Regions from separate parts of the Homo sapiens genome. Here all the other regions are linked to region 1. The links come from fine-mapping of genetic effects on gene expression. A gene starts in region 1. Each other region holds a variant in brackets. All regions are shown on one strand. Distances are from middle to middle.

What was found.
Region 2: its variant is fine-mapped to the expression of GLCCI1 in whole blood (TOPMed, PIP above 0.99).
Region 3: its variant is fine-mapped to the expression of GLCCI1 in prefrontal cortex (ROSMAP, PIP 0.95).

Annotation. Positions count from the first base shown.
Region 1 is chr7:7,965,282-7,973,471 of GRCh38, forward strand. It overlaps GLCCI1 (glucocorticoid induced 1), which reads left to right and starts at 3,515. Exons shown (of 8, transcript NM_138426.4): 1 at 3,515-4,526. The coding sequence starts at 4,070. It overlaps GLCCI1-DT (GLCCI1 divergent transcript), which reads right to left and starts at 3,471. Exons shown (of 5, transcript NR_110018.1): 1 at 3,263-3,471. RefSeq lists silencers at 3,338-3,487, 3,698-4,097, 4,178-4,237, 4,328-4,407 and an enhancer at 4,888-4,977.
Region 2 is chr7:7,833,289-7,841,478 of GRCh38, forward strand. All of the region lies in intron 3 of UMAD1 (UBAP1-MVB12-associated (UMA) domain containing 1), which reads left to right. Among named protein-coding and RNA genes, the nearest start is that of RPA3, 120 kb to the left of the region's middle. The variant G/T (reference allele first, on the strand shown) is at 4,427.
Region 3 is chr7:8,064,903-8,073,056 of GRCh38, forward strand. GLCCI1 (glucocorticoid induced 1) reads left to right here. Exons shown (of 8, transcript NM_138426.4): 6 at 6,019-6,229. Among named protein-coding and RNA genes, the nearest start is that of GLCCI1, 100 kb to the left of the region's middle. The variant A/G (reference allele first, on the strand shown) is at 4,990.

The DNA of each region.
Region 1 (8,190 bases):
TGAGTAAAGACCTGATGGAAATGAGTGAGCAAGCCATGTGGATATCTGGGCAAGAACCTTTCAGGCAGAGGGAACACCTAGTGCAAAGGTGCACGTAGGCTGTCACAAGCAGTAAGGAGTTTAATTTAAGCATCTGCCAGGGACAAAAATTCAGTCAAGGCTTTTTTGTTGTTGTTGCTATTAGGAATCAATCTACAAGAGAGTTTAATCAGCTTAAGATGAACATCAGTGCAGATCTGTTTAGTGTTCTCTCCCAGCCATGACCTCATTGCAAATACTGACAGCCTGGACTGCCTCTCAGATTTGGATGGGCCTTGGATGCTCAGCCAGGCAAACCCAGATGGAGCTAGAAGAGGAAGGTTTTGGTAGCTCTGTGGGCTCTGTGGCTTCTTCATCTTATGATCTCTCCACATAGGGCTGCATATAAATCGCATGTAACCAATGATTCCAAGTTTTAATTTAACCTAAAATGTAGTCTATTACCATATTTGCACTAAGAAGAAAGTAGAACAGAATTCTACCTCAGATTAGCTAATGGCAGATCCTCGTCCCACAGATAGCCATGGCATGGGGCTACTGATACAGAAGTATTTCTCATGCCACCAAATTGTGCCTTCAATTTTGTCTTCTTTACACAGGACAACATAGTAAGAGGTCATTGTTAACATTAAGTCTTATATAAGATTTTCAGAGATTGTTACACTTACATTCAACCAGTATGGAAAATCGGCACTAGGCCTAACTACCCCATAGCTAGCATAGTAGCATAACAACGCTCTTCTAGCCTAGCAATCCACATCTCATTCTAGGGGGTTTCCAATTTACTAAGAACATTTTCTTAAAGCTTCTATATATCCTTGGAGCTTACTTTGTCCTCAATAAGAATAAAATATTATCAAGAACTCAACAAATGGACATTTGAAAGCAGGCACTGAGTTTAATTTATTTTAGGCCACCTTTGATTTGTTTGAAGCCTGTATTCCTTAAATATGAAGATCAGTACTTACGTCGTGAGAATAAAGGTTTAAGAGACAACCAAGGTTTCTATAGCAAAGAGAAACGACTGAGCTTCTAGATTGGTCATAATGACTTACTAGTAACTGAAAATAGTATTTTAAGATCATACTAATTCTCTGTTTCTCTGTGTGAGTTATTTAGATTTGCTTTAGATGTCTAAGTCAGCTGTGGTAGATTTGAACAAACACAGAAAGTCCTTAAAATATGACTAGGTATGTTGCTTTAGATCCAAATTAGGTATTGATCATTGTGATTGTGACCTAGAATAAATTTAGAATTATTGTAACCTAATGTGTTGAAGTTGTTCCATAAATATATTTAGGAGTAGCTAGAGATGACATTTCTATAATGCAACTATGCTGTAATCAAAGCAACAACTCAGAAATTTACCAGCATGTAAAAGAAAAATCTTAACTTTTTTTCTTCTTCTTCTTCTTTTTTTTTTTTTTTTTTTTTTTTTTGAGACAGGGTGTCATTCTGTCACCCAAGCTGGAGTGCAGTGGTGTGATCAAGGCTCACTGCAGCCTTGATCTCCCGGCCTTTTGGGCTCAGGTGATCCTCCCACCTCAGCCTCCCTAACCGCGTCCAGCTAGTATTTTTACATTTTTAGTAGAGATGGGGTTTTGCCATGTTGCCCAGACTGGTTTCAAAATCCTGAGCTCAAGTGATCCGTCTGCCTTGGCCTCCCAAGGAGCTGGGATTACAGGCGTGAGCCACCGCACCTAGCCAGCTTTACATATTTTTAATCTGTCAGATTTTTTGTTCTTGCTATTCTGAGAAAAGTCACTGAAAAGAAATCATTTATCATTCTTTTTACACACAAAATAATGCAGTTTTTAAATTAATGAGATAGGCCATTTATATAAAATTTGAAAGAGTAAAGTTTTTATTCATAATTAAAATATATGTTATTCTGGAAAACAAAAAAAAAGTAGTGGTCTGTCTTCATTTGTAAAATTTCCTTTGAACTGATGGGAACTTATCTCACAGATGAGATTTGTGGGCCATTGTGAATACTCTACAGATTATGTACCCCACAGCTTTGAGCTGCCAGGTACTATAGCAGAGTGCTTCCTCAGACTCTTGAGCCAGTCTGTCTGGGTGAAATTTTTAGCTCCCCATATACTAACTATGTGATCTCAGGCAAGACAGCTTATTTATGCCACAACTGAGACCACAGTAAGGATAATAATAGTATCTACCTTGTGGATTATATGAGGACTGAATGAATTAACACACATAATGTTCTTAGAATAGCGGCTGGCACATGGTGAATAAATGTTAGCTCTTATTATAATATGTGGTAAACTGAGGAACTATCACTAGTTTTACTTGGATGAAGTACTGCATGAAATTTTTGTATTTTTATTGAGTTTCATCAATTTTTTTACTGAACCTAGTATGCTTTCTCGTCTGAACACACAAGGAAGAAAAGAAGGATGGCTCCTGTACGTGAAAGTGACCCCTGCATATAGTGCCTGAAATCAGAGGAAGCTTGTCAGTGTGGGCAGACACCACGAGCAGACCAATTTGACATTGTGCTTCTCTTTTAACCTCTTGAAAATTAATGAAAGTTATCTGATGAAGATCCTTACATTAATTGCTCCCGATTAAGGTTTAAAACCTTGGTTTACTGTGGGGTAAATTTATGTTTTTGATAGTCATCCAAAATCTTTGTACGCTTTCAGTTTCATTACAGAATAAAAAACAAATTTACCACAATGGATTATTACATTACATCTGGTATTTATTCCTCCCAAGAAGCTATCTGCTTCGGAAAAGCCAGGGGCGCCCTTCATTAATATATCTAACTGATGGTGTAATGACATAAAATTCCTTGTTGACCCCTGCTATTCAGTGTTATTGTCTTGGAACATAGAACTTGATAATCTCTTTTCACTGCATAACTACAAATGTTAGGCTGTAAGAGTATTTTACTTTGTTCAGTGCAGGTTCCAGACATTTCTCCTGATCACCAGAAGTTCTTTTGATTAATAAGGCTACTGGTCACGAAAACTCAGCTTACTAAAAGAGATCCAGTCTTCTGGTTCTAACTAAAACATCCCACCGGATGCAGGTGTACTTGCAAATTAAAGTTTGCCTCATGTGTCCTGTGTCTCAAGTCATACAGACGGCCCAGGAGGGTGGAGCCCCTGCAACCTGCCTAGCGGGGCGTTTGCGTGTCTGGGGGTGTCGGGACACGCGCAGGACACACACAGTCCCACTTTCCTAGTCTCGCACTTACCTCAAGGCTGTCAACTTTTACGCTCCTCCCTGCGCGCACAGCCCCCACCTCACGCTGCCACCCCTCACGCCCCGCCTTCAAAGTAGGAGGCACCATTGTCATTGGACACTGCTTCTCTCACTCCTATTCCAGAACCAATCACTCGAGTTCTAGTGGGGAGCGCCTAAGCCAATGGAAATGCTCGCTGCGGCAGCTGCCGGGTCCTGGGCGCTGGGAGGCGGTGCCGGGGGCGGGGTGCGGCTGGGGCGAATTAGTTGCCATTCGGAGTGAGGAGTGGGTAGAAGCGGCGGCGGCGGCGGCGGCGTTTGCGGTGGCGCGGACTCCGAGGAGCGCCAGCACCTCGAGGCCCTTTCTCTCTACCCTGGTCCCCAGAAGCAGGGGTCCCGGCCCTCCTTGCAGCTGCCGGGTTCTCCCGTGCGTGCAGCCCTGCGAGGGCTGAGGAGAAGGCTGCGAGCGGCCCTCGGGGCTGCGTGATCCGGGCCGTTGCCCTGTCAGCACGATGCCTGGAGCGGTGGCGGCGGCGGCTCCGGGCTCCTTGCGGCCCCGGCCGTGACCGCCACACCGAGCCCAGCCGGGCGGTTGCGGCCGTTGGACGTTTGTTTTCGCAGCCTTCCCCTCCCCCCTCGCCGAGGCGGCGGGGGTGTGCGTTGGGGAGGGGGAGCCCCGAGACTCCTCCCCCACAGCGATACCCCCGCCCCTCCCCCTTACACACTCGCACGCACTATCGCGCCGGCTCCCACACGCTCGCGCGCCTCCCGCCCCGCGCCTCCGTGTCGGCCGGCGGCGTCCAGGGCCCGCAGAGCCACCATGTCCACTGCCTCCTCCTCCTCCTCCTCCAGTTCCTCTCAGACCCCTCATCCCCCGTCGCAGAGGATGAGGCGCAGCGCCGCGGGGTCCCCGCCCGCCGTCGCCGCCGCCGGGAGCGGGAACGGTGCGGGCGGCGGCGGCGGCGTGGGCTGCGCCCCGGCTGCGGGAGCCGGCCGGCTGCTGCAGCCCATCCGCGCCACGGTGCCCTACCAGCTCTTGCGGGGCAGCCAGCACAGTCCCACGCGTCCGCCCGTCGCCGCTGCCGCCGCCTCGCTGGGCAGCCTCCCGGGGCCCGGCGCGGCCCGCGGCCCCAGCCCGTCCAGCCCGACGCCGCCGGCGGCCGCAGCCCCGGCCGAGCAGGCGCCGCGGGCCAAGGGCCGCCCGAGACGGTCCCCAGAGAGCCACCGGAGGAGCAGCTCACCTGAGAGACGGAGCCCCGGCTCGCCCGTGTGCAGAGGTAGCGAGCCCAACCCTCCCGTCCTCCCGGGCTGCGTCTCCCCGACGGTGCCCTCCGTGGAAACTTCAGCCTCTTCGGGCTTCTCTTTGCTAGTGCATTATCGAAGGTGTGAAAGTGGCTTTGGGAATCTCACCCCCCTGCGGTCGCTGTGGGGCTTGGAGGAGCGAACTGAAAAGCGACTTTTATTTGACCCTCATGCCGCCCCTCAGAGTCTCTCTTCCATCACTCGCCTGCTTCGAGAGGTTTTTCAGTTTAAGAGCTGGCTAGCTCATTCGTGTGTTTGCCGTTTGTAGCCGGGGAAGGAGAAGCTGGGCGAAACACTTAACACGCACACAAACTCTTCAGCAGCGGATAAGGTGGCGGTTGTAATCTCTACCGTCTCTTTGTGCTTTTCTGCAAAGTTCCTAACGTGCCTGTAACTACCGGGATAGTATTTTATTTTTTAGAGGGTTGGTGGCATTAGTTTCGATGTAAGGATATCGGCTGGATGTAATGATATCTGCTAGAGGGGACAGTTTTGAATGTACAATTGAAGTGTATACGGTTTTTTCCCTCAGTCCTCCCTCTCTCCCTCTCCCCCAGCCCCCCGCCACCCCGCCTCTCTCTCTCCCTCTCTTTCTCCCCCTCCCCTTTATATATTCATGCATCAGAGCACTCCTGCACTGGAAACAGTTTGTGCTCTACCGGAGATTTTCATGGTAAATTTCTGAAAACTTATTTGTGGAACGTGTTCGTTTTTTTCCTTCCATTTTTAAGTACACTTAACAGTTCAGTTGAGCTGTTCAAGGATCTCAAGTTTCTTTTTTTGTTAGGTGTCAAAGGTAATGGTGAGCTGGTGGATGCTGTGGGTTTCCCTTAGTGTTTTCTGTTTTGCTTTGGTTTTGTTTATGTCTAGGGACACAGTGCATGATTTAGTTGAGCCCTGGGGGAGAAAAGGAAGATTAGCCAAAACAGGGACTTAAAGCTCATAAGGGAGAGTGGAATAGCTAATATTGTTAGATACCGAACTAGAGCTACAGATGCTGCTGCTGCATTGTGGAGGGAACAGATCATACTGGGTGGAAAAATCTCTGCTTGGAAGGGAAACACTGTCAAAGTCTGTACATTGTTTATGTGGTATGTGGAATTTTTTTTTTTAATGGAGCTTTCTTGATGAAGGTGTTAGAGTTGGAGAAAGTGGTTGTCTGCATTATGATACATTGCAGTCTTGGTGTTTTTGTTTTAATATTTCAGACCCGTAATTAGCATGTTGCTAACGCACTTGTTTTCTGACCACTTGATGGTGAACCAGTGTAGGATGTAGTGCAGTGGGATGAGTACATGAGCAGCAAGAAATACATCCTGTAATCTGTATGCATTGGGAGGAATATGCTCCTGCACTCCTCCCCCAGGTCAAGCCAGCTGCTGCAGAAACTGACATCCTCCAGCAAATCCTGAATGAATGAATGAAAACAACGTGATCGCCCTAATAATGACCACAACTGAACACACATCTTTGGCTGTATTTTATAGAAAAGGCCACCATTTTCTAACAGATTAATGCCATATGCAACTCCTTTGCACATTTTCTAGAACTGTATGAAATGAGAAGTAACAGAACGAACAGAAAACAGTTACATAAATTTTTTAGTGATTTCGCTTCAACAGTGCACAAATTGAGTTTTGGGATTTTCTTGTAGGGACTAAGAGGCATAAAATAAGCATTGCAGATTGTGTACAGAGGGTCTGGTGGGTGTGAGTAAGAGAAGTTTCGGCAATTGCTGCAACAACATAATGGCCATCTAGTACCTCCTCCCCTTTTGTATATAAACACTAACATCTTACAACGGATAATAGTACAACTTGTTTTTCTGCATCCTTCAAAAGGCTTAATGGCCTAGGAATTACATGCTCCATCATCAAGCAGTTTTAATAAAATTTGTGATCTGGCTTAAACTATTCTCTTTGTTGTAGTGTGGCACATACGAGTTTAATGCGATTTTAATGCAATCATGATGAAAACACTTTTCTGAGTCTGGTTGTGCAGCAGACAGATTTGCAGTGTCAGAGAGCTTGTGTTGGGAATGCAAGGGCTTTCTTTGCTAAAGATGTTTTTCTGCTGTTTTAAACACCAGGTGGTTTTGTCAGTTTCTTACATTGCAGTGATTTTTGAATGCGGGCTTCTGTGCCCCCAGTTCCGTGATTATATTACTCCTATGTTACTTCTCCATGTCCCGCCTTTTACCCCCACTACCCAAATTAAAACTGTCCTACTAAACTGTTCTGTTTCCTTAGCCATTTAAAATCCATGATCTGAACAGTTGATTTAATTTTTCGAATGATTATCTTCTCAATTTCTTTTGAATGCTGTAAGGTTCTGACTTGAGTGGATTTTAGCCTCCACTGGTCAAGGTTCCTGCCGCTGCCACTGCTGCTGCAGACACTGACATCACTATACTGCATGAATGAAAAACAACAACGTGCTCCATTTCTTCCTCTGCTCTCCACCTCCTCCTTTTTCTGCACACTTCAGTGTATGTGTGTGTGTGTGTGTGTGCGCGCAAGAGGGTGTTAAAACTGCGTTTGAAACTACACTTGAAAGCATTAAGTAGTTGATGGCTCAAGGGGTAGGTATATAGTATAAAGGCATATTGTTTATGAAAAGCTGCAAGGGCTATGGGCATTTCGACTAAAGGTGACATAACTGAGCATTCAGTGTTTCATGCATTTCATCTGGAGTGATGATTATAGGAGAAAATATGGAAGCTTAAAAATGTTTTTATGATTCTTTTACCAAAAAATTATGAAACCACTCAATTTCTAAATAAATTATATCATTATCTGCGTCTTAAGCATTCTTAATGTGAATATTTGTAGGGCTAAGGCTAGAGTAATAGAGAATTGATATTCAGATTGTTTCACAAGGCTGAGGAAAAGCTGAATTCTATAAATAGGAATAGTCAATTTTAATATTATTATAATATTAATTTATACAACCCAGGAAAAAATGATAATTTCCTTTATTTTTGTAGTATAGTTTTAAATAATTTAAATGGTTACCATAATAGAAATACGTAAATTGCCAAATACCTTGCTGTATATATAGCAGACATGGAGTTTTACAAATTGAAACTGTTTTGTTTGTGCTCATGCATCATCCTCTTTTTGCTTGTTTTTTTTCTTTTGTATTTTTAAAACTTCAAGGTTTGTTATTTACATTCATTCCTGTACTTCTGCCATTAGTAAAATGTCATCCTCCCTCTTGTTTGGTTCTGAAGGGTATTGCAGTGGTGAATGACAGGCTGCTGAATGAATCCTCAGGCTCCCTGTGATGTGTTTGTAATAGACGTAAAATCATAAAGTATTATGCAAATAGTTATTTTTTTGTAATGGTAATACATAAAGTCTACCTTTGAGATAAATAGAGCAACTCAAATGAGAAAAAGCAGGATGTTAGTGTTAAAATTAATGATCTTTAAGCTAAAATCATTAGTAACAACCAAAAGAAAATATAGTAAAGTTGCTTCTTTTTGAAACCTCACAGACCAGAACCCATGGATTTAAACATAGAACAAATACAGTTTTACTGTCCAAGATAGTAAGTAGGAAATGCAAATCTTTGTGTGCGTGTGTGTGTGTGTGTGTGTGTGTGTGTTTTGTAAAGATAGATCATTAGGATTAATTA
Region 2 (8,190 bases), 130 kb before region 1:
GACCAGAGTCATCTCTGGACTGTTGGCATTGGGAGTGAAAAAGAGAGTTACTACACACATGAGGCATACTGTGGTGTTAGTATTTCTTGATATCGGCAACTATCCTGACATGTGACCACCGAGGGGGATTCAGAGATGGGCAAAGTACAGTTGTTAACTTTTAGGAATTTAGAACAAGCTGTAGACATAAGAAAGGTGCTTCTGTCTGCAGACTGTAGTAAGTACTCTACAGAGTGCAGGTGGTCAACATGACTGGGAAGAAAGAGGTAAGTACCTTCAATTAAAATAGGTTGTCAGGAAGCGGGCAGATTTCAGAGAATAACTCTTGGTAATTACCATACTATGGCACATTTACACAAATAGGCAAAGATGGCAGGATAGGAAATATAGTTACTGGAGCCTATTAACCTTTACACTGTGAAAAACGAATTAGAAAAACTACACATATATGCTAAATATACAAAACCATAGTTCTATGTATGTCTTTAATCATGGAATAGCAGCCAGAACATGGTGGTTACTTTTTCAGGTTTTATTTGAAATACTTGAAATGAAGATGCCAGAGAGGAACAGTATTCTCCTATCTAATCTTACAAAAGTCTGCTTCCCATCTTATTCTGTCAAGCACTGGTTTCCAAGGAGATTCCGTGGGTAACCTATCATGTCATCAGTCTCAAGAATGTGGAGATCTACCCAAGTATCCCTAACATTTCTTTCTTTTTCTTTTCTTTTTTTTTTTTTTTTTTTTTTTTGAGACGGAGTCTTGCTCTGTCACCCAGGCTGGAGTGCAATGGCGTGATCTCAGCTCACTGCAAACTCTGCCTCTGGGGTCAAGTGATTCTCCTGCCTCAGCTTCCTGAGTAGCTGGGATTACAGGCACCCACCACCACGCCTGGATAAATTTTGTATTTTTTATTAGAGGCGGGGTTTCACCATGTTGGCCAGGCTGGTCTCGAACTCCTGATCTCAGGTGATCCACCCGCCTCAGCCTCCCAAAGTGCTGAGATTATAGGCATGAGCCACCATGCCTGGCCTATCCCTAACATTTCTAGATAACCTGATATGATCTGTCATCCATAAATTTCCTATCCTATTTCCCAGGCTTTTTATATTTTTAGACTGCACTCCACCATGTCATTGGACACTGTCTCAGTCTGCTCAGGCTGCTGTAACAAAATACCATAGACTGGGTGACTTAAACAACAGACATTTATTTTTCTCATGGTTCTGGAGGCTGGTAAGTCTAAGATCAAGATTCTGGCCAATTCGGTTCCTGATGAAGAACCCCTTCATGGCTTGCAGATGGCCACCTTCTTGCTGTGTCTTCACAGGCAGAGAAAGAACTCTCTCCCTCTTCTTCCTATAAAGCCACAAATCCCATCATGAGGGCCCTACCCTTATGAATTTCTCTTACCCTAATTATCTCCCTAAACACCTGATCTTCAAATACCATCACATCGGCAGTTAGGGCTTCAACATATGAATTGAACGTATGGGTGGGGGTGTGTAGGGTAGAGGAAGAGATACACAATTAGTCCATAGCAGACAGTGAGCTTGTAATTCAGGGAGATACTACCAATTATTTTTCAGGACACTTACAATCAGGGCAGAAGGCGAAGGGGAAGTAAGGCATGTCTTCCCACTGTGAAGCAGAAGAGAGAGAGAAAGCAAAGGAAGCCACACATTTTAAAAAAATCAGATCTCTTGAGAACTCACTATCACAAGAACAGCATGGGGGAGACTGCCCCCGTGATCTAATCACTTCTCTCAATAGATGGGGTTTACAGTTCGAGGTGAGATTTGGGTGGAAACACAGAGCCAAACCATATCATTGATCCTATTATGTTTTATTCACTTAATCTGTCAAAGACTATGAGAAGTATATTAGTCACTCATCATTGTAATTCTATCATTTTCTGTCTGTATTTCTGCTTTTTTATTGTTTTGTGTGTATCTTGATCTTGTTATTTGAAGCAAGATTTGTGACTTAAATTCCATTATAGGTTTTATCTTTTATCAACAGCAAAAATGTCTTTATGTATTCTAAAAGCATTTTGCTGTCACTTTTATATGACATTTTCATTGTAACTTCTGCTTTCTTTTTTTTTTTTTTGCTTTAAAAAAAAATCTTGCTCTGTGATTTTCATTCATTCATTCACTCATTGAAACAGCACTTTTTTTTTTTTTTTTTTTTTTTTTTTTTTTTTTTTTTAGCTCTTAGCAATATATAGAAGTGAGCAGGACAGCCGTGGTCCTTTCTTGGGAAGTTTATTTTCTAGTGTGGGAAATTGTACAATAAATAAAATAATTCTAATAGTAGTAAGTGCTATGAAGAAAACACAATAGTATGCTAACATGATAAACATCATGATAAAAGGCCTTTAAGTAGCAGTGGAGATTATTTGTCAGTTAATAAAGGGATTTAAAACAATTACATTTACTGAAATAGCTGATATGTGTATGATCTTACATCAGTTATCTTATTTTAGGTTTTCTGAGGTTTTGTTTCCATTTAGTTTGTAGTCTATTTAGTTTTTAGTTCCATTTAGTTATGAGTAATATCTTGCTTTATTTGCTTGTTTTCTTCTCAATTGGTTTGGAAGATGATGTTATTTTTATTTACATAAGTGGATATTTTTACATTCACTGAAAACATTCTCTAATCTAAATTTTGCCTTTTTATCAAATCAAACAATTATATCTTTTGCTTTCTTCCTGTAACATGAGAAATTTAATCATCCACGGTCTTGCTATTTTATGGTCTTTATTAATATAGTCTTAAAGATTCCATTTAATTAATTGTATTAACTGTACTTAATAGGTTTTCTTAGCTACAATAATTATACCGACTTCCATATTTAACAGCTTTTAATGCTTACTGTCAATTTGTGTACAATAATTTAACCTTTCTGAATTTCTTAATTTTAGTGGTAAACGTGTTTACATATTACTTTATAAATGTCTTCAGTATATTCTTAAGCTCTTGGATATTTAAAAGTGGTTTTCTATGGTCTTTACAAAGGAACAGTAATTTTACTAGCTATAAAAGTCTTATGTTATAATCTTTGGTTTGCTCAAAATGATCACTCTATGGTTTTCTGGCCAACCTGATTTTTCTTCATTAGTAGGGAATATGTTTTATCTTTTCTGTTTCATGCTATAATTTATTTTTTATACCTTTGAAGTTTAGAAATTTACTATGTATCAAGATAGGTGTGTCTCAAGGCCAAGTGAGAGTTAGCAAAAACAGGTTACAGAGTCAGATCTGCAAAGGTCTCAGATATTGGTATATCTCATATAACACAAACTAAATATGTTTACTATATTTAAATAAATAAAAGGCAAACTTAAAATATTATAATGATCATGAGAATTAAAAATTAAGTGTATTTGGGAAAAAATAGAACATTAGAAATTAAAAACAGTTATTCAATGCATAGGTTAAAGAGTATATTAGACATAAGCAAAGAGAGATTTTATAGGCTAGAAAACAGATCTGAAGGATTACTCAGAATGTAACACAGAGAGACATAGAAATGCATAATAGTAGCATGAAGGATATAATGAAGAGGTGTGTCTAACATCCATCTTAATGGAGAGACAAGGTCAGGGAATGGGGCAGGGACAATATATGAAAATTAGGAGCTAGGAATTTTCCAAAACTATTAAAAAAAAAAAATCTGTCTTCAGATTTAGAAAGCCCCCCAAACACAAAGAAGAATAAATGAAAGAAATCCACATTAGACATATAATAGTGACTCAGTATAACACCAAAGACAAACAAAATGACCTTAAAAGACTGCCTTAAAGGAATTAACAGAACTAAAGCTGATTTGTCAGTAACAGCACTGGATCCAAAGGCAGTCAAATAATATCTTCAAAGTGGTGAGAAAATATAACTCAATCTAGAAGTCCATGTTCAGCAAAAATTTGAAGATTAAGGGCAAAATAATTTTTTTCAGATATATAAAACCTGAGTGAATATGCAGCAAGAGACTCTCTCTAAAGGAAATTCTAAGTGATGTACGTCAGGCTGAAGGAAAATGATCCCAGATGGAAGATGTGACCTACAAGAGGGAATGACGAACTAAGAAAGTGGTTTATATGAGAATAAATCTAAACTAAAATTGATTGGTGAAACAATAATGTAATGGCTTATAGCCAACAACTCCGTAGAGAAGTGATTAGAGTGAAAGCATTCTAAAGTCCTTGCTTTATGTAGGAAGTTGGTTAAAACAAAAACAAAAGCCACTGACTAAGTATGCATGTTAACATTTCTAGGGTATTCACTAAAGAAAAGAAATAGTATAACTCTAAACTAGTGGAGATTTAAAAAGGAACAAAAAAAGTTAGTCAACCCAAAAGCAGTTAAAAAAAGAAGAGAAAAAGAAAGGGAGACGAAGCATAACAAGATGATAGAACAAAT[G/T]TGAATATATCAGTTACTATACTATATGTAAATTAAATTTTCCTGTTAAAAAGCACAGTTTATTAGATTAAATTCAAAAGATAGACTAGCTTTAAAAATCTAAATACAGTACTGTGGTTTACGTGAAAACCCTACATAAGGGTACGTAAAGGTTTTGAGAAATAGGGTGACATAACTACAAATATAGGTGGAATGAACTTTAAGGCAAAAGGTGTTACCAGAGATAGAGGGTCACAAGATAATGGTAAAAGATTCATTTCACCAGGAAAATATGACACTTCTAATGTTGTATGCCCCCAATAACAGACTAAAATTATATAAAGTAAAAAATGGACAGAAACACAAGGATAAAAAGAAAAAATGTCATCAGAATTGGAGGTTGGAATCTACTTCTTTTAGTAATTGATTTATTGAATAAACCAGGGATCAGCAAACATTTTCTGAAAGAGAGGCCAGATAAATATTTTAGGCCTTGCAGGGCGCATATAGTCTGTTTTGTGTATTCCTCTTTGCACCATACTTAGCTCATTGGGCCATACAACAACAGGCTAAACAGATTGAGTCCACAGGGTATAGTTTGTTGACCTCTGAAATAGAGAGTAAAAATTAGTGAGGGAATACATGATTTGAGCAACAGAGTTAATAAGGTTGATATTGACCATACACGTATGGAAGAGACATTCTTCTCAAGGATGCATGGAAGATTTATGAAAATAAGAAGCATACAGGACCATAGAGCAAATATCAATAAATGGTAAAAGATTATTATCTTACAATCAACATTATCCAGTCAACTAATACAATTAGTAAAACCACTTTTAGCAATAATCTGGCATTTCTTCATTAAATACGTGATTCTTTCATGATCCAGCAAGTTCATTCCTGGTCATATGCTCTGGATGAACTCTTGTACACTGATAGACATACAAGAATGATCACAGTGCTATTCATGGTAGAAGAAGCTAGAAACAACACAAATATCCATCATCCACAGAATGAATAAATAAATAATGTTTATTCACAAATGAAATACTCTTAAGGATATGAAAATAGATTTAAAACTGCTTCACATAGCAGTATGGATGAATCTTAACATAGTTTTAAGAGAATAAAGCAAACCACAGAAGAATAAATACAATTATGAAATTCAAAACATGCAAAGCTATCCGATATATTATTTAGAGAGAAATATATAGATATATTGATCTATATATTTGTCATGTAGCTATAAAGAAGAGCAAAACAAGAATAAACGCAAAATTCAGATTAGCATTTACTTTCTAGCAGGGGAGGAAAAGGAATAGATGGGAGTGAGAGCAGACTCCAGAGTTCCTGGTAATGTTCTGTTCCTTAAATTGGGTGGTGAAACACAGCTGATTGTTGTATTTTATTCTTTATGCCTTACACATATTATAGTATCTCGTCATTGTTTAATAAATGAAATAAATTACACAGTGGGGATGGAGTAAGGAAGTATGGAAACAGCAAGGGTGGGCACTTTTTTTGTTTTTTGAGACTGGGTCTTGCTCTGTCATCACCCGTTCTGGAAGGCAGGTGCATAATCATGGCTCACTGCTGCCTCAATCTCCTGGGCTCTGCCAGTCCTCCTGCCTCAGCCTCCCCCAAGCTGGGACCACAGACACATGCCATCATGCCAGGCTAATTTAAAAAAAAATTATTTGTACACATAGGGTCCCCCTATGTTGCCCAGACGGATCTTGAACTCCGGGGCTCAAGCCCTTCTCTTGCCTCGGCCACCAAACCCGGCCAGATGAACACTTTTTTTTGAGCCTTTTTACTCTTGCTGTACACGAGAGCAGAGCAATAGAACAGTAGGTTGGAGGGAGACAGGAGTAAAAGGGTTTCTTTGTAAATAGGACTTACAATAGCATGTTCGAATGCTAATAGGAATGATCCGGGAGAGAGGGGGAAAAGTCATAATAAGGAAGAAGAGAAGGTAGTTTCAAGAACAAAGTTCTTAAGAAGCAATGCAATCTACAAATGAGTGGTTTGGCCTTAGGGTCAAGTTGACAAGTTTAATGGGGATTGGGGAAGAATATATGTTACAGTTGCATGTAGGTTGGTAGGTTTGTTTGTGGGAAGATGAAGATCACATCTAGAGATTTATGACCATAAATTTAAAATGAAACTAGTCATCATGATTCTGTGCTTTCCTCCAACTCATATCCAGCTGCTCAAGTGCCTGCAGGTTTGCAGTTGGCAGAAAATTGGGCTTAACTGAGGTTGAGGTTTTGCTAGCTGAAAACATGGTCGGAACAAACAGGCAATGGAATTGGGGTGTATACAATGATGAAACAGAGAATTCAAGCTGGATGAAGAAAGAATAGACATGATGGTGACCTAGACAGTGCAAAAATGGACCCCCCATTTTGGGGGGCAGGGCAGGTCACAAAATTGGCAGAGTGTAGCTTCCAGAGTATGTGAGGCAGATTGTTAGGTAAATAGGGTTCTGGGGTTAGTGTAGTTGTTAGTGTCAGGGTCTAAGATGATCATGGGAATACCCAGCTCGGTTGAAAGAAAAGGATTTTGGAGGACATGGAACTGAGAGGATGAAGTGTTGGATGGGTTGTATATGCTCGTGGTCTTCAACCCCGACTGCACATCAGAATAATCTGAGGGACTTTCATAGAATATTGATGCCCCGGCCCCACCCCAGACCAATTAAATCAGGATCTCTGGGTGTGGTTTCTCGGGAATTTATATTTTAAAAGAGCTCCCTGAGTGATTGTAGCGTGCATTTAGGTTCACGTAGCTACGTGAATGTTGGCATTGCCAAGCCAATAAAAGAAGCAGTAGAGAGAACTGTTGTAGACTGGGGGACTATGGGAGGAAGGAGGATTGATTCAGAGGATCCCCGACTACTTGAACAGCACTTAGCACAATTTATTGTATATAGTGTGCACTCAATTAATGGTAGCTCTTTTTATTTTTGTTATTATTGTCATCATCATTATTATTGACAGTGGCAATAGCAGCAGCATTATCCTGGGGAAAGTCTCCAGATGTTTTATCAAAGGTTCTTCACAGAAGGTTAAAAAGCACTAGTTTTAGATGATCATCAAGGAAAGTTCCTAATAAAGTTTGGCAAAAAAGCTAGAAGTTAGCAATATTCTGAATTGACGTTCTACAGTTGTTGTGAAGCTTGGAGGAGTTGTACTCCATCATAGCCTGGCTTAGCAGTCTGCACTTGTCAGAAGCCAGCAGGTTAGGAGTTGGGTACCTTCTTTTCTTATGTCAAAAACCTAAAGGCTAAGACAGCTGGTTGCTATTTTCCTGCCAATAGGAACCTTAGAGCCTTTTAGTTGTGTTTCAGTGTACCTGTGCCAGGGTTGGGATTGGGAAGAGGAGACAGGGATTAAACATATAACATTCTAATATTTTATTTTACATTCCCAAATTACTTCGTGTGCATGTATACACTCTTACTCCCTTCTCTGCAAAAGGAGTATTATGAGTCGGGTAAACAGTACTATTTAAAGCTAATGTGTACTTGTGGGTACTTTAGTGACTCCCGAAGATGTGGTTCCACTGAAGAATGCAAGGAATTATAGCTACGAACTGTCAATATAACAAGTGATCTTTTTTTTTTTTTTTTTTGAGGCCAGGTGTTGCTCTGTCGCCAAGGCTGGAGTGCAATGGCACGATCATGGCTCAGATTTCAGGCTCAAGCGATCCTCCCACCTCAGCCTCCCAAGTACACTGGGACCACAGGCACACACCTCCACACTCGGCTAATTTTTGTA
Region 3 (8,154 bases), 100 kb after region 1:
AGACGGGGTTTCACTGTGTTGGCCAGGATGGTCTCGATCTCCTGACCGCGTGATCTGCCCACCTCGGCCCCCCTAAAGTGCTGGGATTATGAGCGTGAGCCACCGCGCCTGGCCAGTGTGGCCATTTTAACAATATTTATACTTCCTATTCATGAGCATGGAATGTTTTTCTATCTGATACTGTCATTTCTAATTTCATTGAGCAGTGGTTTGTAATTCTCATTCTAGAGATCTTTCCCTTCCTTGGATAGCTGTATTCCTAAGCTATTGTGAATGTGATTGTGTTCTGTATTTGTCTCTCAGCTTCGATATTGTTAGTATATAGAAACACTACTGATTTTTGTATGTTTTGTTTCTTAAAACTTTGCTGAAGTTGTTTATCAGATCAAGGAGCTTTTGGGTAGAGACTATGGGATTTTCTAGGTATAGAATCATATTGTCTAAAACCAGGGATCATGTGCCTTTACTCTTCCTATTTGTGGCTGTCTTTTATTTCTTTCTCTTGCCTCATTGCTCCAGCCAGGACTTCCAGTACTATGTTGAACAGGAGTGGTGAGAGGGCATTCTTGTTTCATTACAGTTTTCAAGGGAATGCTTCCAGTTTTTGCCCATTCAGTATGACGTTGGCTGTGGGTTTTTCTTGGATGGCTCTTCTTATCTTGAAGTATGTTCCTTCAGTGCCTAGTTTGTTGGAGGTTTTTAACATGAAGGGATGTTGGATTTTATTGAAAGCCCTTTCTGTATCTATTAAGATAATTATGTGGTTTCCGTTTTTAGTTCTATTTGATGAATCACATTTATTGATATGCATATGTTGAACCAACATTGCATCCCAGGGATAAAGTCTGCTTAGTCATGGTGGATTCACTTTTTGATCTGCTGCTGGATTTGGTTTGCTAGTATTTTGTTGAGGATTTTTGCATCTATTTTTATCAAGGATATTCACCTGAAGTTTTTGTTGTCATCGTCATGTCTCTGCCAAGTTTTAGTATCAGGATGATGTTATCCTTATAGAATTAGTTAAGGAGAAGTCCCTCCCCCTCAATTTTTTTGAATAGTTTCAGTAGGAATGGTACTAGCTCTTCTTTATACAGCTAGTAGAATTTGGCTGTGGATCCATGTGGTTCAGGGCTCTTTCTGGTTGGTAGGCTTTTTATTACTGACTCAATTTCAGAACCATTATTGTTCCATTCAGGGATTCTCTCTTCCTGGTTCAGTCTTGGGAGTTTGTATGTTTCCAGGAATTTACCTGTTTTTTTCTGTATTTTCTAGCTTGTATGCACAGAGGTGTTCATAGTAGTCTCTGAGGGTTTTTTAATATTTCTGTGGAGTCAGTGGTACTGTCCCCTTTGTCATTTCTGATTTTGTTTATTTGGATCTTTTTTTCTTTATTAGTCTAGCTAGCAGTCTCTCTCATTCTTTCAAAGAATTAATGCAGGGATTCGTTAATCTTTTATGGTTTTTTGCATCTCAGTTTCTTTCAGGTCAGCTCTGATTTTATTTTTGTTATTTCTTGTCTTCTGCTAGCTTTGGAGTTAGTTTGCTCTTGTTTCTCTAGTCCCTCTATATGTGATGTTAGTTTGTTATCTGAGATCGGATTTTTATGTGGACCTTTAGAGCTTGTAAATTTCCCTCTTAACACTGCTTTAGCTGTGTCCCATAGAATCTAGTATGTTGTATCTTTAGTCCCATAGTTTCAAAGAATTTCTTGATTTCTGCCTTAATTTCATGGTTTACGCAAATGCCATTCAGGAGCAGGTTGTTTAATTTCCATGTAATTATATGGTTTTCAGCAATTTTCTTAGTATTGATTTCAATTTTTATTGTACTGTGGTCCAAGAGTGTGGTTGGCATGATTTCAGTTTTTTTGAATTTGTAGAGGATTGTTTTATGTCCATTCGTGTGGTTGTTTTTATATTATGTGCCATGTGGTAATGAGAAGAATGTATATTCTATTGTTTTGGGTTGAAGAGTTCTGTAGATGTCTATTCAGTTCATTTGGTCAAGTGTTGAGTTCAGGTCCTGAACATCTCCATTAATTTTCTACCTCAGTGATCTGGCTAATACTGGCAGTCGGGTGTTGAAGTCTCCCACTATTATTTTATGGACATCGAAGTCTCTTTGTAGGTCTCTGAGAACTTGTTTTATGAATCTGGGTGCCCCTGTGTTGGGTGCATATATATTTAGGATAGTTAGGTCTTCCTGTTGCATTGAATCCTTTACCATTATATACTGACCTTGTCTTTTTTGATATTTGTTGGTATAAAGTCTGTTTTGTCTGAAATTAGAATAGCAATCTTGCTTTTTTTCAGTGTTCCATTTGGTTGGTAGATTTTTCTCCATCCCTTTATTTTGACCGCATGGGTGTCTTTGCATGTGAGCCTGGTCTCTTAAAGACGCCTACTGTTTAGTCTTGCTTCTTTATGCAGCTTGCCAGTTTGCACCTTTTAATTAGGACATTTAATCCATTTACATTCAAGGTTAATATTGATATGTACATGATCCTTCATTGTGTTGTTAGCTGGTTACTTTGCAGACTTAATTGTGTAGTTGCTTTATAGTGTCACTGTTCTGTGTACTTAATTGTGTTTTTGTAGTGGCTGATAACGTTCTTTCCTTTCCAGATTTAGCAGTCCTTTCAGGACCTCTTGTAAGGCAGGTCTGGTAGTAATGAATTCTCTTACCATTTGCTTGTCTGAAAAGGATCTTATTTGTCCTGTGCTTATGTAGCTTAGTTTGACTAGATAGCCACTTCTCGCTTGGAATAGGCTCCAATCTCTTTTGGCTTGCCAGATTTCTGCTGAAAGGTCTTCTGTTGGCCTCATGGGGTTCCCTTTGTAGGTGGGTGACCTGCCTATTCTCTCCAGCTGCCTTTAACATTTTTTCTTTCATTCCAACCTTGGAGAATCTGATGATTATGTATCTTGGGAATGGTCCTCTTGTGTAGTATTTTGCAGGGGTTCTCTGCATTTCCTGAATTTGAATGTTGGCCTCTTTAGTGTGGGTGGGGAAGTTTTCATGGACGGTATCCTGAAATCTGGTTTCTAAGTTGCTTGCTTTCTCCTCATCATTTTTAGGGATGCCAGTGCATCGTGGATTTAGTCTCTTTACATAGTATTTCTCAGAGGCTTTGTTCATTCTTTTTTATTCTTTTTAAAAAAAATTTTGGCTAGGCACGGTGGCTCATGCCTATAATCCTAGCACTTTGGGAGGCCAAGGCAGGATCACCTGAGGTCAGAAGTTCAAGACCAACCTGGCCAACGTGGTGAAACCCCATCTCTACTAAAAATACAAAACATTAGCCGGTCATCGTGGTGGGCACCTATAATCCCAGCTACTCAGGAGGCTGAGGCAGGAGAATCTCTTGAACCCAGGAGGCGGAGGTTGCAGTGAGCCGAGATTGTGCCATTGCACTCCATCCTGGCAACAAGAGCAAAACTCCATCTCAGAAAAGAAAAAAAAAATTTCGTCTTAGTTCAGAGAACCAGTCTTCAAGCTCTGAGATTCTTTCCTCAGCTTGGTCTATTCTGCTATTAATATTTGGGATTGCATTATGAAAGTCTCATAGTGTGTTTTTCAACTCTCTGATCAGTTTGGTTCCTTCTTACAATGGCCATTTCATCAATCAGCTCCTGTATTATTTTATGGTAATCATTAGATTCCTTGGATTGGGTTTTTGCTTTCTTCTGAATCTTGATGACCTTCATTTCTATATTATGAATTCTTTCTGTCATTTCAGCCATTCCAACCTGTTTAAGAACCTTTGTTGGGTAACTAATGTGGTCAGTGGGAGGAAAGAAGACGCTGTGGCTTTCTGAGTTGCCAGAGTTCTTGCACTGGTTCTTTCTCACCTGTGTGGGCTGATGTTCCTTCAACCATGGTATAATTTGTACAGTCGGTTGACTTTTCGGGATGTTTTTAGAGTCTGAGGCATTGTACAAGGTTTTTATTTGTAGCTGACTTATTGTCCTTAGTTTCACAGGAGGGTTTATTAACTAAGTATTTTCAGTATTGAAGTTTGCACTCTGATTGAAGTTTGATGCCTCTTAAGCGTAATGGCCAGTAGGTAAGCTCTTGCTCAGCCACGTGGCTCTTCTGTATTTCCTCACTATTGCAGCTGCGCTCCCTGTCAGTGCTCTGAAAGTGTGGGCTCCTCTCCTACTCAAGTGCTGGCTGCAGATCTTGGCTTGGCACTCCCAGGCTGCAGCCCTGGGGTGAGCTAAGGCTTTATGTTCTCTCCCAGCTTGGAGGCAGCAGGGGAAGGGACCTTGGCAGTGGCTATGGCAGAGGGCCTTTCCCTTGTCTCTGGGGTCCACCCCAGAGAAATAGCAGAACTGCTGCCAGTCGGTGTGATTGGCTTTGAGTAGGACAGCTGCGTTGTGGGCTCAAGCTGGGGGGATCCTGGGGGAGACAGACTGACCTCTTCTTAGGGCCGTGGCAGCTTGCTGGAGGTGTGGTTAAAGCACTCTGGGTCTTTGCTCCTTTCCTAGTACAAGGGTAGCAAGGGCAGTACCACTGCAGTGGCAGTGGCAGAGGGGCTTTCGGTTGCCTCTGGGAGCTCCACTGCAGAAACACAGATCCGTTGCTACTGGGATGTTCAGCCAGGGGGTGGGGCAGCTGTGCTGCTGGCCTGAGCCGGGAGCCCCACCGGGTGAAAGGTGGGGTGCCGAGGGCTCACAGGGAGGACATGGGCTCCTCTCTGTATGGTGAGTATGTCATGCTAGCAGTGCAAGTAAAGCCCTCGGCCTCTCTGTTTCTTCTCTACTCCAAGGGCAGCAGGGGCAGAACTCTAAATGAAGTTTTCATTTGCATAGTTTCAGATTTCGGCCTTCACTTGTTTGGTATAGAAAATATTGATACATTTTGAATTTCACCTGATTTTACCTTCCTTCATTTCCCCTCTTGACAGTTTTTCTAAAATCTCTGAAATGACAATGATCAGAGTAAGAGCAGTAGACACAATAAATAGTGAAAATAAATTATAAATAA[A/G]TTAACAGCATATTGGTTCTTTTCCCTAGCACTGCAGTCCTGTGTGTTTAATAACAACAAATATTTTCAATTATATAACTTAATATAGAGAATTTTACTTGTTAACCTCACTTTGTTAGCACACAAATGAAGAATATGGAGTAAGATCTATTTTTACAGAAGCAGAGTAGTAAAGTAGAAAGAGTCCACTGCAGCAGAATCTCTGATGCCACTTAATTAGCTGTGCCACTGAACTATAGGTTCCTCATTTGTGAAAACAAAACAATGGACCAGTGAGCTCTGAGGTACCCTCAAGACCAAAATATGTGGCTCTATGATGATGGTTTCCTTTTTTTCCTTCTTTTTGCTACTGAGAACAAAGTATTCAAACTAAGGAAGATTATGAGTAGTCCTACTTAGTTGGATACTGAGTTAGTAGAATTTGATATCCAAATTCTTCTAATATTAGAATTCTTTTGAGTTACATTAATAAACTCTATTGAGTACTAATAGAATAAACCTCTTTATTAGAAATTTTGGATAATTTGCAAAGGAAATAGAAACTATGGTTCTGTTCATAACCTCTAAAAATTAAACTAGGAAGGAATGAACAAACAGAAAAATCTGTACCTGTGAATATGAGGAATATGAGATTTCACTTTTTCTTACAAGCAAGTCAAAGTGATTTTTTTTTTAGCTTTGTTAATTCTTTCAGCAAATGTTTACTGAATATCTGCCATGTGCCAGGAGTAGTGCCAGGCACAGGACTCCCGCTGTCCTTGAAGAGTTTTGTGGGATGTGCTGACCTACAGGTACATACAGTGAGCTATGGAATTTTTAAGGCAAACAATTTGATTTAAAAGAAATGTTTAGTTCAATAAAGGTAACATACGCAGAAATTAGCTTAAGACACAAGCTTGGTCTTTAGCCTTTGAAGAATAAACTGGGTCAGTAGTGGTGGAATATGAAATCAAGGGAAATACTATGTGCTTTCTATGTAGATGAATATATGCACCAGCATTTGGATGTTTAATGGTATTCCTCTTACAGCCGTTGGACATACCAGATGGTCGAAGAGCTCCACTTCCTGCTCATTACCGGAGCAGTAGTACTCGCAGCATTGACACTCAGACTCCTTCTGTCCAGGAGCGCAGCAGTAGCTGCAGCAGTCATTCACCCTGTGTCTCCCCTTTTTGTCCCCCGGAATCCCAGGATGGTAGCCCTTGCTCAACAGAAGATTTGCTCTATGATCGTGATAAAGGTAAGAATGGAATTGTCCACTTAGAGGGTTTGTTATGGGCCTTGCTCATTATACCTTGTCTTAGACCATTACATCTTTTTTTTTTTCTTTTGTTCAATGGTGACATTGTCAAAGATTGGTTAATCTAGGTTTCTTTGTTCATTGGTTTCACATACCCCCTTTTTTGTGACTCTAACAAACATCTTCCATAAATGTGTCAGAGAAGCACAGCGCATGGTTCTAACAGCTAATAAAAGCCATAAAATGGAGTGTGTACAACTTCATATAATGCATAGGTCTTTTCCTTGGTATTGTCCAGAGCGGATGATGGTTATGGTAAAGTTAGCTTTACCATGGTAAAATCAAGCTTAAAGTTAGATTTTATAATCAGATTGATTTGCGAGGAAATAATTTCTAAAAATTCTGTTGGAAAAAGTGAGTGTATTTTTAACCAAGTTTATAAAGCTTAGTGAGTATCTACAGGACATCAGGGATTTTATTACAGTATGTAGATAAATTATTAACTGTTGAGAACATCTGGGATTCTTATTTCCTATCAAGCCCAACTGTCTCTCCATGTTCTTCTATCCTTGTGTCTACTTGTGTACACCAACACTTCCTGGGTTCTTTCTGTTTCTAGCCCCCTAAGACCTAGCTACAGAAGGCCATATAGACTGCCCAGCTTCTTCCTTCCTAGCTACTTACAAAGAAACACTGAACTTATGTTTATAACAAATTTACTGCTTGTCACCATAGAGAAATAGGTCAATGGCAACAAAATTGTAAAACTATAAAAAGTTAGACAGTTTATAAAATCTTGCAGGAGTTTTATGGTCCTTGTTCTGAATTGACCCCATCCCCTATGATTGATGTATTGTTGTAAGTAAAATGCCCAGATCATAAGTGCTCAGCCAAATGAATTTTTACATATGTGTGTGCTCCTGAAACCACTACCTACATCAAGTATAGATATAGAAGATTTTTATTATCCCACAAGGCTCCCTTGCGCCTCTTCCCAAATAGTATCCTTCCTCTCTCCACTTGAAAGTAACCACTTTGCTGACTTCCATCACTATAATTTAATTTCCCCTGTTACTAGACTTCATAGAAATTGAATAATGTGGTATATATTCTTTGTGTCTGACTTCTTTTACTTATCATTATACCTAACTCTTCTAAGATATTAAATGGAAGCTACTTTGGACTTTGTCCTCTGCTTTTCTATGTGGGTAGATCTTAACAGTTCTCCCCTTTCTTGTTGACTCTTTCATTACTGAAGGCCTTGTGGACCCCCTTCCTTCATTAAGGATATATTGAATATAGTACCAGGTGTCTTTGGCTTCATGTGGGAAGTCTCCATTTCTTAAAATGTCAGACTAGGAAATTTTCATTTCACTGAAGCATCCTGTGAGAATAAACACCTTTAATCACTTCCTCACAACCTTTTAATGTGGATGTTTCACAATAAAACATCTTGCTTCCAGTAGGAGTGTTTGTTTTGAAGGTAAATGGAAATGATAAATAATAGTAACTTGTTTTAGGTTGTGTAGGTGGTAAATGGAGAAACCAGTCTGTCTTCATTCCAAACTCATATTCTTTGTTATTAAGTACAGTTCAGGTTGGCCACTTTTGCTACTTAACACTTGTAACTGGGGTAAAAATGAAAAGTAGAAATAATGGTGGCAGTACAGCTAGACAGTTAAGTCTGGAGTTCTGTTTTCTTTAATACTGTGGATAATTGAGAGATGCTGAACCAAAAAGAAAATGTATTGAGAGGATGGTAAATGAGTTCCATTTTGGTTAACTGGTTGTGAGATTGCCTTCAGGGCCTCCCAGTGAATAGTGGTTTCTGTAGTTCACAGGTCTTCACTTACATCATAAGTTTCAAACAGTGCATGTTCTTTAATATATAATAGCTCTTTTTCCTAAATATGTATAATCAATTT